Regions from separate parts of the Homo sapiens genome. Here region 2 is linked to region 1. A link means that fine-mapping ties the variant in region 1 to the expression of a gene that starts in the linked region. Tissue or cell type: whole blood. Region 1 holds a variant in brackets; the other region holds the start of a gene. All regions are shown on one strand. Distances are from middle to middle.

Evidence for each region. PIP is the estimated chance that this variant, and not a neighbour inherited with it, causes the effect.
Region 2: it holds the start of HIKESHI, and the variant in region 1 is fine-mapped to the expression of HIKESHI in whole blood (TOPMed, PIP 0.92).

The regions. Positions count from the first base shown.
Region 1 is chr11:86,138,246-86,141,007 of GRCh38, forward strand. No RefSeq gene overlaps it. Among named protein-coding and RNA genes, the nearest start is that of LINC02695, 54 kb to the right of the region's middle. The variant C/T (reference allele first, on the strand shown) is at 1,518.
Region 2 is chr11:86,300,855-86,303,354 of GRCh38, forward strand. HIKESHI (heat shock protein nuclear import factor hikeshi) reads left to right here and starts at 1,386. Exons shown (of 5, transcript NM_016401.4): 1 at 1,386-1,624. The coding sequence starts at 1,595.

The DNA.
Region 1 (2,762 bases):
CACATGCCTGTAAACCCAGCTACTGGGGAGGCTGAGGCAGGAGAATTGCTTGAACCCAGAGATAGACGTTGCAGTGAGCCAAGATTGTGCCACTGCACTCTAGACTGGATGACAAGAGTGAGATTCTGTCTCAAAAAATAAATCAATCAATAAATAATTATAAAAATAAAGATAACCAAAGTTTCCACATTTAATGACAATTCTATCTTGAGAGCCACTGTAGAGTTACCAGGAGGAGCTAGAGCTGGTTAATGGTGGAGAATGTGCAGGAAGTGTCTAAAACTGTCAGGGCTAGACTGGCTGGGGAACAAAACTGGGTAGTCAGGATTGGGTATTGGGTACATGATGTTTTACTGAGGTAGTTTTAGTGCCAGTGATATTTCAGTGTTCAGACTTAATTCATTACTGTAAAGAATAAATTATTAAATTTTCAGCTTTTAAAAAATCATCAAATAATCTGTGTAGATAATCTCCTTAATGTCAGGATGAAATGAGGGTCAGATGAGGAATTCAGGAATGGGGCTGGACACAGAGATGTGGTGAGAGATGGTGAAGCTTATGAATGGGGTAAGGTTGTTACCCATGTCATTTGTTCATTTTTTAAAAGTGATAACCAATTTCTCTGAGTCTAAGATCTCCTAATCAAGCCAGCCCTTGCACGGCTACAAAACTAACCTCCCTAAAACACAGGTGAGACTATGGCACTCTCTTCCTTTCTGGGCTGCTCCTTATTGGCTTGATTTTTAGGGTCCAGTATATCCAAAGTGTCAAAACAAAAATGTATTACTTCAGAGGGACATGCAGGAGGAAGAGGTTAAGCACTGAGTGCTAACCACAGTCTGCCTTGGGCAGAAGCAGAAAGAAGCCTCAGGCCAAATGATAGAAGGGAAGTCGCTTTCTGTTTTTGTTGCCGGAAAGGGCAAAGAATCAAAACACCACTTTCGCAATGAATGATCTTACAAAATTGCAATAACTGTGACAAGACCTGAAAGACAAAACGCATTTTTGAAACATCTTCATGCAGTATCTTTTTGCTTTGAAGTATTTCCCATTTGAAAATTGGGATTGTTTGATGATGTACCATCATCTCTGGTATCAAGACAAATACCAAGACAAATCTTGGTAGATCAAGACAAATAAAATATTGTGAGAAAATTGGGATACAGAACCAGGTTCAAATCCAGGCTTTACCACGTATCAGCTGTGTGTTTTTAGGCAAATCTTAACCTCGCTGAATCTCAGTTCTTTCATTAATTAAAGGGGAATAATTTTACTACCTGAGCCTTAGGATTGTTAGAGTGCCTCAGACAGTCAGCATTCAGTAAATATTCAAATATTCATCAAATAGCAACAGTGGTTAGTGGGATTACAGTTGATTATTTATTTTAGGTCTCTGTATTTCTTAGATTGTCTACCATGAGTATATGTTGTTTTTGTAATTAGAAAGAAAAATAAAACTTATTCTTTTTAAAAATGAAGGCCGGAGGGCTGGATACAGTGGCTCATGCCTGTAATCC[C/T]AGCACTTGGGGAGGCCAAGGCAGGAGGATCACTTGAGCCCAGGAGTTGGAGAGCAGCCTGGGCAACATGGGAAAACCCTATCTCTATCAAAAATACAAAAATTAGCCAGGCATGGTGGTGTATGCCTATAATCCCAGCTACTTGGGAGGCTGAGGTGGGAGGATGGTTTGAACCCAGGAGGCGGAGGTTGCAGTGAGCCGAGATCGCACCACTGCACTCCAGCCTGGGCAACAGAGCCACACCTTGTCTCAAAAAAAAGGCCTGGTGTGGTCACTCATGCCTGTAATCCCAGTGCTTTAAAAGGCCAAGGAGGATCGCTTGAGGCCAGAAGTTCAAAACCAGCCTGGGGAATGTAGTGAGACCTCGTCTCTACAAAAAATGGAAAAACAAAAAAAAATTTAACTGGGTGTGGTAGCACACGCTTGTAGTCCTAGCTATGTAGAAAGCTGAAGCAGGAGGATCTTTGGAGCCCAGGAGTTTGAGGCTGCAGTGAGCCATAATCATGCCACTGCACTACTGCCTGGGCAACAGAGCAAGACTCTGTCTCAAAAAAATAATAATAATAAAAATTAAAGACGAGGGGCATAATTTCTCATATTTTTACATTTGCTCTCCCCACCCTTGTCTCTTTTATGTCTCTTTCTGCTGTTATAAAGAGTGCATGCTGTCTATGCAGCGATATTCAGAAGGCATCATAGAATGACAGTCATTCTCTATTCTCCAGCACAGTGCTTTTGGGGTCAGCTGACTCTACCCAGGCCTGCAGTACTGAAATGAGGCTCAGATCAGGGTGGTGTCTGTGTCCACGGGAGATCTGTTCTCTCGATTACATATCGATTCCCATCCTACCATTTCCTCAGTTTGACACTAAGCTGGATGCTCCCAGCCATCCCCAGTCCTCAGACAACTGTATTTTTTCCCTCTAGTTTTATTTATTCGGCACCAAGGCCTAGTGGCACCGACATGGCTGCAGGAGTCAAGCCTGCAGTTGGTCTTTGAAAAACAGGGAGAGTGTGGGCGAGTGCATTAAAGGAAGCAAAGCTCTGGCAGCAAACCAGCTTCTAATCTTGACGCCACCCCTGGTTCTCTTCTTTTCTTTATCATTTTAGGCTTGTGGGTCCCAGATCTCCATATTTGCCTTCTGGAACTGCTTTAGCAATAAGAAAAAAGATGGATGAGGGAATTAGGGCCGAGTTACTCCAGCCCCATGAAGCACTCCAGCACCAGGAAGCATAACCTGAGGC
Region 2 (2,500 bases), 160 kb after region 1:
TTAGGAAAGGCAATAATGCTAAATATTAACATTTATTGAGTAAGCTACATTCTGGCCACTATTGAGTACTTTACGTGTAAGAACCCTCAAAACAACTTTATGAGGTAGATACTACTATTACTTCATTTTAAAGATGGGGAAAAGGAGGTATGGGAGTGTTAGGTTAACTTGCCTGAGATTATGTAACTAATAAATGGCAGAGATGGGCTCTGAACCCAGGTAGTGTGGGTGCCTTAATTTATGAAGTGGTCTTCATATGAATGGCCTTTTTATTCTGAAGGTTCTAGGACTTTTTAGATAGTAAGTTGGAAACATTGGTAGATCCTTTCCTACCTCTTCACCTTTGGCACAGCTATCTCAAAGGAGTATCGGTGATAAGATAGGTGATCAGTTTAGGGATCCACAGTGGAGGCCAGAGGACTGTTCCAAACACTGATCCCCCATATATAAACTGAGAACTGGGAAGACAGACCTGCTTTACGGCTGGTGGCCAAGCTCAGATATTTCAAATTGGACAGAGACCCTTTACTATCCTATTCAAGAAGAAAAGGAATTGGAGCTGTGAAAGGGAGAATAAGTATTGGTGGCAATCGGTACTTAATGCCAGTATTTTTTTTTTTTTTTTTGGCTATTGTTTTGTATTTCCTATGAAACTTTTCTGCAGATCCACATAGAAAAAAAATAGACATTTTTACAATAAAACTCCCACTAATTAAGCACAGCCAAGCACTGTTTTAAGTGTTTTATACATATTAGCTCATTTAATCCTCACAGCAACCCTAGGCAATAGGCTCATTATTTGTCTTTTGCAAAGGAGGGGCACTGAAGCACAAAGACATCTACAACTCGTCCACAATTGTACAGCAAATGAATGGGAGAACTAAGTGAAGCTGGAAAGAACTACTATAAATTGTAGACAAGTACAAAACAATTGGTTAAAGATTAATACTTCTGAGACACTGTGTAGCAGAAAGAAACCCGGATTTGGATTAGGACTTGAATTCAGCCTCCAACATTTACTGCTGTGTAAAGATTTGAGGCTGATCACTCCTATAAAATTTGGATTATAATACTTACCTCATAGGGTTTTTGTAAAGATCTAGTGACGTGATTATTGTAAAAGTGCACCGTTAATCTCTCAGATGTCACAGAAACGTTAGAAGCATCTCTTCCCAGGATTGTACATGGAAATGAAGGATCCACAGATTTTGTGGCTATAAAACACCCGGACTACCGATCCCAGTGTGCAAAGCCTCCAGGCTTACCTTCCCGGAAACTGGCGCGGTGCCCTCTGGGACTTGTTCTGGGACTTGTAGTCTTGTACTGGCGCTGGCCCGCCTTTCTTCCTTAGTGGGGAAAACCGGGTGTAAGCCCCGGAAGTACTTGTTGCCTGAGCAGTGGGCTGCTTAGGAAGAGAAGGTCAGAGTTCGCGGGGGCAGAGGCATTCTTGCCGCTGGCCCAGTCACTATGTAGTGGAGGGGCAGACACCCTCCCGCAAATTCTGGAAGGTTCTTAGTCTCGACTAGGGCAGTAGCCCCAGGACTCCTAGTCGCCGGCTTCAGGTCACTGCCGGCTGAACGGAGCTGCCGTCGCCATGTTTGGCTGCTTGGTGGCGGGGAGGCTGGTGAGGATGGGACCGGGTGATATCAGGAAGGGGTCAGGATACCGAGGGCGAAGCCCTACGGCAGGGAGGGTGCGCAGGCGCTAGGGATGCGGGGAAGCCCACTTATTATATTTTGGGTGGGTATGTGAGGATGGAGCGTGGGAAGCTGGGTGCTCTCCTTTGCCCAGCTCTATTCAGATTCTTTCGAATAGTAGTCACAGTATAAGTTGGCATTTATTAAGTGTGCATTTTGTACCAAGTACTGGGCTAAGTGCAATGCACGCCTTTGGTCACTCAGCCTTATGTGTGGCGCTTATTTGGCACTTTGAACTTAATCCTCATAACTCGTGAGATGGTCTTTATCTTTGACATTTTGCAGTTACAGAACTAAGTTCAATCGCCAGTATAAATACCTTCTTTATTAACTTGAGGTAGAGGTGAATTTGGGATTGAATTTGGTCTATAGCAAACTGTTTTTCAAAGATTAAGGTGCTCAGGGAATGTATATCTTTTGGGTCCCTTTGGAAGAACCCGAGTAAAAATAAGCTTAATTTAATTGGAAGTTGGCTGAAACTTAACGTGTGAGCCGTATCTGAGATAACCAGAGAAGGATGCGAGTAGTGTGTTTCCTTATGGGTCAAAATAGATAACTTACCTTGCCAAATTGTTAGAGTAAATGAGAACAGCACCTGGAATTCTTTAGGAATAATCTGGAAGGTGAATCTTGTTTGTTTCCTTAGAAACCACACAGACATCAATTTTCAGGCCTGATTCCTTTCCCCTAGAAGTATTTTTCCTTCTTTTTTCTCCTGGCTTTTTAAAATGTTGCAGTCCCTTTGCTGAATTGTCTTTTTTTCCCATCAAGTTTTGATAATGTATTGTATTCTGTACATATAC